Regions from separate parts of the Homo sapiens genome. Here all the other regions are reported to be linked to region 3. Evidence: microRNA targets listed by miRTarBase, many of them from high-throughput screens and not tested one by one. Region 3 holds a microRNA gene; each other region holds the end of a gene's coding sequence.
The links. Region 3 holds the annotated microRNA hsa-miR-518f-5p (CUCUAGAGGGAAGCACUUUCUC, at 1,859-1,880, shown strand). A microRNA usually pairs through its seed, bases 2 to 8, with sites in the 3' UTR of a target mRNA and lowers its output. Matches are read on the target gene's strand: a 7mer-m8 pairs with bases 2 to 8, a 7mer-A1 pairs with bases 2 to 7 and ends in A, and an 8mer does both.

Region 1: the mRNA of PPP1R12A is a reported target of hsa-miR-518f-5p. Seed matches in the 3' UTR shown: 7mer-A1 at 647-653.
Region 2: miRTarBase lists SV2C as a target of hsa-miR-518f-5p. The part of its 3' UTR that is shown has no 7-base or 8-base seed match.

The regions. Positions count from the first base shown.
Region 1 is chr12:79,773,296-79,776,442 of GRCh38, reverse strand. PPP1R12A (protein phosphatase 1 regulatory subunit 12A) reads left to right here. Exons shown (of 25, transcript NM_002480.3): 25 at 428-2,875. The coding sequence ends at 514. The region is part of intron 5 of PPP1R12A-AS2 (PPP1R12A antisense RNA 2); the gene reads right to left. Among named protein-coding and RNA genes, the nearest start is that of PAWR, 84 kb to the right of the region's middle.
Region 2 is chr5:76,324,831-76,327,977 of GRCh38, reverse strand. SV2C (synaptic vesicle glycoprotein 2C) reads right to left here. Exons shown (of 13, transcript NM_014979.4): 13 at 1-2,614. The coding sequence ends at 2,431. Among named protein-coding and RNA genes, the nearest start is that of SV2C-AS2, 15 kb to the right of the region's middle. RefSeq lists an enhancer at 2,047-2,546.
Region 3 is chr19:53,698,172-53,701,318 of GRCh38, forward strand. It overlaps MIR518F (microRNA 518f), which reads left to right and starts at 1,844; the gene lies at 1,844-1,930. It overlaps MIR523 (microRNA 523), which reads left to right and starts at 214; the gene lies at 214-300. It overlaps MIR520B (microRNA 520b), which reads left to right and starts at 3,056; the gene lies at 3,056-3,116. It overlaps LOC107985346 (a long non-coding RNA gene), which reads left to right and starts at 2,499. Exons shown (of 5, transcript XR_001753998.1): 1 at 2,499-2,535.

The sequences.
Region 1 (3,147 bases), not on the chromosome of region 3:
TTTGACTTTCTTGTGGAACAATATTAAGTATTATGATTTTAGGTCTGACATACATAAAAGCAAAAGTCTTTGGTTTAGGTGCTGACAGGAACCTCTTTTAAGAGCCTATCCTAACAAAAACAGGCTTGTCTTGGCTGCTGGAATGTGGTGTGCTTGTGAGTCATAAAATCAAGTGATTTAGTAAATTTCAATGGAAAATTTGGAGAGAATAAACCTTTCATTCCAGCATTTATGAAACTAATTAGCTTTACAAATCCAGGTGTGGTTTTTTTCCTTCTTCCTGATACATGTTTTAGATACTAGAAATATATATAACTGACAAAGCTTGATCATGTGTTTTGTGGTGAAAATATAACATTTATTAAGAATAATGTTTTATCTTTTAATATTGAAGGTAAAACTTGATCTTCAATTTTTCTCTTTATAGATGTTACCAGACCTAAAAGCAGACAACCAGAGGCTAAAGGATGAAAATGGGGCCTTGATCAGAGTTATAAGCAAACTTTCCAAATAAAAAAAAAAAAAGCAGCAAGTAATGGAATTGCACATATTAGTAACCCAGTGGACCATAATTGGCAGTCACTGGAAGTCTGGGAAGAATCCTTGGAGACTGTCATTTTCGGATATCCTGCCAAATGCCCTCTTATCTAGAATTTTTGTTTCATTTTGTTTAATTTTCTGGGGTGTTTTTGTTGTTGTTGGTTTGTTTTTTGTTTTTTTTTTTTAATCAAGACCATTGTTTCATGTTAATGCAGCTGCTGAGAAGATTTTTTTTTAATGACTGAGAAAACTTGTTTACAGCTCCAGCATATAAGGAAAGTGTTCAAGGCCAGATATGCCTCAGATATTTAACCAGTAAGCCTTAGTTGTACATAAATACTTTTGTGTCAACAAAAACTTTCAGCTCTCACAGAAGACAGTTACTCAACATTTTTTGATGTGCCACAGTTTCGAGTTTTTCGATATTTAAATTTTTTGGCTTTTCATCTAAGTTTGGGTTTGTATTTTTTCCTTCTAAACTCTTCATGTGGCAGAGTCTTCTATGTTTTCACAGCTTTTTCATTACAGAAAAGAACACTTGCTCTTCTGTGATTATTGTCATGTATTAGGCTAATGCTGTGTTGTCTCCCACCTGGAACTGAATTGCTTGGTGGAACATATGCTTTCACTGTTTGTGCAATATGCATTTATTTCTTATATGAATGCTTTAAAGTCATTTGAGGTTAGATCTTTTAATTCCTATTTTCTGCTTCATTGGTCACTTTTTTTTTATTGTAGTATAAGATGTTAGATTCTGTAATCTTCACATTCATTTTAGCAGGTACTGAGTGATGCTGTATATACAAATAAGTGTATTGTTTTGATTTTTAGACCACCACATGGCATGCTTGACTATTTCTTATTTCAAATGTCTGCTAATGCAGAGTAGGCTACTCCATGATAGTGTTAAAAAACAAAATTTGCTAACAATGTGATATAAAGACTTTAAAAGTTACACATTATGTGGAGCCCTATCTTTACAAAAGTTTCCTACTGTAAAGTGCTTTTATTTTCAGTTTTCACTTGATAGTACTCAACCATAATTAAAGTTGCATAAGATAATTGCTTTACATTTCACATACCTATATTTATCTGAGTGCTGTCTAAAACTGTTGTGCTAGCCAAAGTAATGCTATGAAATCATTTGCAGAATTAACCCGTGAGTTAATGTTAAATGCACTGTTATTGCCATGTGAAGAGGCATCGACTTTGATACCACCATCATGTTCAGACCATTTTATACATTTCAGTGGCCTTTTTTTTTTTTTAAGGAAAAAAAAGCGCAAAACCAAGTACATAGTGACGATGGCTTTTATTTGGACAAATAGCTTTTATATTTTCATTAAACCATGCAAAAAATACTACATCTTTCTGGCACATAACTGTCTCCTTAACCACTGAACAGTTCAGCCATTTGAATAAATTGTACATTGTAAAGCTTATAGTAGCTGATTGTATTATTGATTGTATTGTATACTATATTAAATGTGAATTTGTACCCCTTCATTTTAAAAGGTCATTGTGTTCTACTGCCTATTTTAGATTACTTTGGGGTTGGGGAAGGGTGTTTTGGTAAGCAGGATTTTAAGTCCTCTCTCTCTCGATTGGTTTTATGAAGATATAAGGTTATGCTCTTACTACCAAGCTCAGGATTCTTGATTTTAAAGGTACAAGGATAGTTGTGGGAGTTTTATTTTTGGTTATATTTGAACTGTATGAATGGTAGGTCTGAATATTGAGAATTTCCATGGTCTTATGTGGAGGTAAAATATACAGATAACTGATCAGTTTGAGTGACTGCAACATGTTCTGGTTGCACAACAGTTAGGCATGCTATGGTTTATATTTGTGAAGTTTGGATGCCTGTGAAGAATGATTAAATACATGTTTCTAATATTTTAGTGTTTTGTATTTAGGTTATTTATTCTTTGTATCTAAAACTGAACAGCTACTGTGCTATATTGATTTTATTGGTAGTATTGAGCAGACCTTGTTTCTGCATGAAACTAGTTGCAAAACCCACTATTTTGGAAATAAAAATGTATTTTGACATATACAAATAAAATGAATAAAACTATTTTAAATGTGTGAACTTTTAATGAAGACATTTTAAATTTTGTTCTGAGATATTTAAATTCTGCATGGGTATTTTTTCACTAATTGCTTTACTTGGATACCAATTTGAATAATTTCTGAAATTGTAATATTGTGATAATTTGCACAGCATTGTACATGCACATCTGTAAATGCAATCTTAATTGCCATATTTATGCAATCTGTGTACCAATTTGGACAAATGTTTATATATTTTACATAAAGCTGTCTGTATGCAGAATCTGAGAACTAGTTTTTTTATGATAATAAGTGGGTAAAAATTAATAACAGTGAGTTTCAGGGTAGTTGCTTTGTAGCACAAGATTTCGCTTCCATAAACATTGTTTTTTTTTTTTTTCTTAAAGTAAACCTGTGCTTTTTCTTATCTGCAAACATAGGCTTAGCGATACATATAAAGGTAATATTCCATTGAAACATACAGTTTACTTTAATATTAGATCATTTTCCAATTTAGATTTGTCCAAGGTTCGACCTGCTAACACATCTATAAAT
Region 2 (3,147 bases), not on the chromosome of region 3:
GATCCCTCTTAGGCCACCAAGGATGCTTGGATTAGGTAACAAGTAGGCCAAGAACGGTCCTTCTGCAGGGGACACGGATGGCAGGTCTCATGAAGTAAGGTTTTGCTGGTTTATCCTATGCTGACCCAACCCAGTGTTCAAATAAAATTCTGAATAACTGTGCTCTGCAGCTTGGGAGATGTTTTATGCATTTAGACCCCAGAGCAGACATTAGAGATATTTTGAAAAGTAAAGGTAGTCTAGTTAGCAAAGTGAACTATCACAGAGGACTAGAGACAGCGATGCCCATGTACATTTCTATTTTTCTTTTGATGGGTTGATGGAGATGCACTCCTGGCTTTTGCAGTTATTTCTGCACATGCTGCATTCAACTAAAAGACCTGCTCAGGTCCCCAAATGTCTTTTTAAAGAAGACAAATCAGGGAGAGATAGGTGGGAAAATGGGTACATGTGGAAGAAGAAAAACATACAGGGTACTTTCTTGGGTTGTTTGACTGCTGTCTTTGTTCTCCAATAAAATGATAGGAGGCAGAAGTGAGAGAAAGTTGTTTCTTTCCCTGTGCGGTTGGTATCTTTCAAATGCATCTTGTCTAGCCTTCAGTGATTTTTCTTCTTCCTGCCACCTTTGCAGTTTTTGGTTCGGGTTTTCCTGATGTTCTAGCCCTGATCACAGACCCCCAGGGAACCACCCTCTTCCCACTGCCCCCAACACCAGTCTTCCCCCCTCTGCAGACCTGAATTACTTCAAGGGGAAGTCGATTAATGGCTTATGTTAATGAAAGAAGCTTTTCACTTAGTCTGAGCTCTGCGAGGGATCATTAGGAAGGGGAGGGGGAGGCAGGGGGGCCTCAGGGGAGTTAGGACATCTCTGAAAATAATGATCAGTGGAAACAAAAGCTTTCCCTTCCTGGAGGCCCCAAGCTATGGCTTGCCTGAAAATGCCTATAATAAGTAACAAGAATAAACCTCTATCGAGGCAGTTAAAAAAGGAATATTGTTTAAATATGGGATTTATTCCTGGCTTCTGGTCATTGGCTGCAAGTCTACAAGGAAGGTTCAGATTTCAAAGAAGAGGTGTAAAAAGGACGAGCCTGGGGGAAGGGGAGCCTGAGAGGCGAGAAGGTCATGTAGCTGACAGCGGGCCCGTGGGAATGTCCTGGCTGACCTCTTTCTTCCAAGCCCAGGCAGATTCCAGAGGTAAAATGAGCAGTCAAACAACCACAGGGAGATGGTCTGTCTGTGAGAGGGGCCCTCAGGAGTGCAGGCGGGCTGTGATTTTACAGGGAGCCAGGAGCGCATTGAGCAGTGGGCCAGCCCTGGGGAAGCTAGAGGGACAAACCCTCTTTGCTGATGCCAGCTGGGAAGCTGAATGTCAACTGCGGGCCAGGTGGGGTGGGGGTCCTGGCGGGCCAGTCCCACAGCAAAGAGGTACTGGAAAGAGGTACCATTTTGTATTTCCAAATGGCTCTGGGTGTGAATTTCTTCCTAATTTGCAATTTACAATTTAGCTATCCACTGGCAATCTCTAGACTAGAGACAGTGTGGGTAAGTGGCAGAATCAGGTAGGCAGACAGTTTTTAAGAAGCAGCTTTCTTTCCCTGAATCTGCTGTCTGGCAAGACCAAGGGCAGCTGAAGGAGTGGGAGTGGTAAATGGAGGCAGAAGCTCTCTCTCGGATCTCTGATTTTCAAACATTCTGAACCACATGCCACAGTCACAGATACTGTTACAGTTCTTTTTCCTCACACTTTTCAGAGGTTTAATTGGGCTTTCTGACAGAAATCTTGCTTATGCAGCACACTCAGATTTTTGCTGCTAATTGCAGAGCTTTTATTTTTCTTGTCAGCGGTCACCTTAATTGTCTTGCCCCAAAGAGCCCCACCCAGCCCTGTTTGGTGCCACATGGTTTTCTTTGAAAGGCTCTGCTATAACAGTGAGAATTACTGGGTGTCCTTTTCTAAGTAAACAGGAAATATCACTCTGTTAGAAAAAAAAAAAAAAAGAATCCCTCTTCTCAGCACAAATGCAATAATGTGCCGACTTATATTTCCTGTTAATGTTAAATTAGGAGCAGGATCTATTTCTTACACCAGCCCAGTCTTCTTAGCTTCTAAACTTTCAATGAGCAGAACCCCAGGGAAGCCTGGCTGCCTAGGGCATTTTAGAAATGCTTCCACTGATTTGCGGGAGGCAGTAGCATCACAGTTTGGAAAGATAACAATGCATTCAAACAAAACAAAACAAACAAACAACCTGTGCAAAATCACAAAGGGGCAAGATGATATGCTTCTAAATTTTAAGTCACAGCACGTGTTTATGTTCTGATACTTGATCACCTTTCTATATAGGAAAACTCTGAAGCCTTGAGTCAGGAAGGAGAATTGACCCAGGGCAGGAGGAAGAAACGCAGGAAGGATGGCTTTTTTTCCCATTACATCAGAACCTGGGTTCGTGTGTCAGGCAGGCACAGCCCAACGAGTCCTCCACACACGAGCACAGTAGAAGCCAGCAGGATGGGGATTGATTTGGTGATGCTGACCAGAGAGCCAAATATTAAGTTTCCCAGGACGGCTGCTGCCTTGCATAGCGCATTTAAGAAGCCAAAGCCTGTTGCCCTGCAAAGGAAAGAGACATGAACAAGGTTGAGAAAATGCCTCCCCATGATTCCAACTTTAGACCAAAAGATCCTAGATTTTCAATGATCTTCCCTCAGATTGTGTTGTATATCAGTGGAGCAAATCAATGCTTGTTAGCAAATCTGGGAGTAGAGAATCCTAGCTGTTGGTATTGTTCCTCCAGCCCTCTGTTGACTTTCTTACCATAGCTTCCATTGACTCTTACTCTGCCTGTAAGTCCCAATGTATTGTGAACAGAAAGAGAGAAAAAATTGTAGGGAGTACGAAACATCTCTAGTGGTTTAACGTTGTTGGAAGGAAGGGTCTTTTTCATTTTTATAGAGATTAGGTCTTGCTCGGTTGCCCAGGCTGGAGTGCAGTGGCATAGTAATAGTTCACTGCAGCCTCAAACTCCTGGGCTCAAGCAATCTTCCCACCTCAGCCTCCTGAGTAGCTAGGACTACAGGTGCACACCACCATACACAGCTAATTTTTATTTTTATTTTTGTAGAGATAGGGTCTTGCTATGTTGC
Region 3 (3,147 bases):
GAGACAAAACTCAGGAGGATTGCCCCTTGATGAACAAGGCTAACCTGCTGAGCCTTTGAAACAAGGAACTGGAGATGGTCCTTTCAGGGGTTTATATTCTGGATTCCAGAAAACATGCAAACAGGGCCAGTAAATGCATCTTTATTTTTGTGTTCATTTTAACCTGGTCAAGGAAAATTGCTACAAAAAACCCAGGGTGCTGGAGCAAGAAGATCTCATGCTGTGACCCTCTAGAGGGAAGCGCTTTCTGTTGTCTGAAAGAAAAGAACGCGCTTCCCTATAGAGGGTTACCCTTTGAGAAAAGCAGCATTGAAGTTGATGCTGATCTTGCTAATACATTTGCAGAGCATGCTTATCATCAGACTTGGATGAAGGTGGGGTTCTGTTTTTTTTTTTTTTCTAAGACAGGATCTCTGTTGCCCAGGCTGGAATGTGGTGGCACTTCCAACCTAGCTCTCTTGGGCTCAAATGGTCCTCTCTTTTGGGATAGAGTCTTACTCTGTGACCCAGGCTGGAGTGCAGTGGCGTGATCTCAGCTTACTGCCACCTCCACCTCCCAGTTTCAAGCCGTTCTCCTGCCTCAGATTCCTGAGTATCTGGGATTATAGGTACCTGACACCACGCCTGGCTAATACTTGCATTTTTCTTTCTTTTTTCTTTTCTTTTTTTTTTTTTTTTTTTTGAGATGGAGTCTTACTCTGTCACCAGGCTGGAGTGCAGTGGTGCGATCTTCGCTTATTTCAACCTCCGCCTCCCAGTTTCAAGTGATTCTCCTGCCTCAGCCACCCGACTAACTAGGATTTCAGGCATGCACCACACGCCTGGCTAATTTTTTGTATTTTTAGTAGAGACAGGGTTTCACCATGTTGGTCAGGCTGGTCTCGAACTCCCGACCTCTGGTGATCTTCCCGCCTTGGCCTCCGAAAGTGCTGGGATTGCAGGCATTAGCCACCCCGCCCGGCCATTATATATTCTTATATATATAATACCATATACGTGCAAAATACTCTTCTACATGAAGAGAATACTCTTATATCACTTTGGGGTTTTTTTTGTTTGTTTGTGTGTGTGTGAGTGTATGTTTTATTTGTTTTTGGATAAGGTCTGGCTCTGTCACCCAGTCTAGAGTGCAGTTGTGCCATCTCTCTCAGCTCACTGCGACTTCTACCTCCCACCTAAGCCTGCTGAATTAGTGTCTACAGGCATGCACCACCACACCTGGCTCCGTTTTGTATTTTTTATACACATGGGCTTACACCATGTTGCCGAGACTGGTCTCGAACACCTGAGCTCAGGTGATACTTCAGTTTCAGCCTCCTAATGTGCTGGGATTAGAGGTGTGAGCCACCGTGCCCCACTTGTAGTTGTGTGTTTCTGTTCAAATTTTATTGAGGAGTTTTTAGGGCCTAGCCTGTGATCTACCCTGGAGGATGTTTGTGTGTACAACAATGTATATTCTTTAACATCGTAGATTCCATTTTGGATGCTCCCATCGGGACTGTGTGTCCCTGTGCTGGAACTCTGGTGAACACCTGGCTCAATATCCATTTCTCTTCTCTAGAAATCCAGCCCAGTTCTCTTGGTTAAATATAAGGTACATATGTCTATGAGGCATTGCTTTTGCTCTTTGAGAACAAAACTCAGGAGGATTGCTCTTTGATGAACAAAGCTAACCTGCTGATCCTTTGAAGCAAGGAACTGGAGATGGTCCTTTTAGGGGTTTATATTCTGGATTCCAGAAAACATGCAAACAGGGCCAATAAATGCATCTTTGTTTTTGTGTCCATTTTAACCGGGTGAAGGAAAATTCCAACAAAAAACCCAGAGTGTTGGAGCAAGAAGATCTCATGCTGTGACCCTCTAGAGGGAAGCACTTTCTCTTGTCTAAAAGAAAAGAAAGCGCTTCTCTTTAGAGGATTACTCTTTGAGAAAAGCAACGTTGAAGTTGATGCTTATCTTGGTAATAAATTTGCAGAGAATGCTTATAATCAGACGTGGATGATGTTGGTGTTTCATGTTTGTTTTGTTTTGTTTTTAATACAGGGTGTCTGTTGCCCAGGCTGGAGTGTGGTGGTCCCTCTCCAACCTAGATCTCTTGGGTTCAAGTGGCCCTCTTTTTTGGGTCAGAGTCTTGCTCTGTGGCCCTGGCTGGAGTGCAGTGTCAGGATCTCTGCTCACTACAACCTCTGCCTCCTGGGTAAAAGCGATTCTCCTGCCTCAGCCTCCCAAGCAACTGGGATTACAGGCATGTGCTACCATGCCCGGCTAATTTTTGTAATTTCCTTTATTTATTTTTGAGACAGAGTCTTACTCTTTCGCCCAGGCTGGAGTGCAGTGGTGCAATCTCGGCTCACTGCAACCTCCAACTCCCACCTCAGCCTCCTGAATAGCTGTCTACAGGCATGCACCACCACACCTGGCTAACTTTTGTATTTTTTGTACAGACATGGTTTCTCCATGTTGCCTGGGCTGGTCTTGAACTCCTGAACTCAAGTGATCCTCCCACCTCGGCCTCCTAAAGTGCTGTGATTAGAGGTATGAGCCACCGTGCCCCACCTGTACTTGTGTGTTTCTGCTCAAATTTTATTGGGGAGCTTTTATGGTATAGCCTGTGGTCTCTCTGGAGAATGTTTGTGTCTATGACAATGTATATTCTTCAGTATGTTATGTTCCATTTTGGATGCTTGCATGGGGACTGTGTGTCCCTGTACTGAAACTCAGGTGAACACTTGGCTCTCCGTCCATTGCTGTTCTCTAGAAATCCAGCCCAGTTCCCTTGGTTAAAGATAAGGTATGTCTAGCAGGTATTGCTCTTTCTCTTGCAGACAAAACTCAGGAGGATTGCCCCTTGATAAACAAGGCTAACCTGCTGATTCTTTGAAGGAAGGAACTGGAGATTGTCCTTTTAGGGGTTTATATTCTGGATTCCAGAAAACACACAAATAGAAAACAGGGCAAATAAATGCATCTTTCTTTTCGAGTCCATTTTAACCTGGTTAAGGAAGATTCCAACAAAAAATCCACGGTGCCACAGCAAGAAGATGTCAGGCTGTGTCCCTCTACAGGGAAGCGCTTTCTGTTGTCTGAAAGAAAAGAAAGTGCTTCCTTTTAGAGGGTTACCGTTTAAGAAAAGCAACGTTTAGGTGG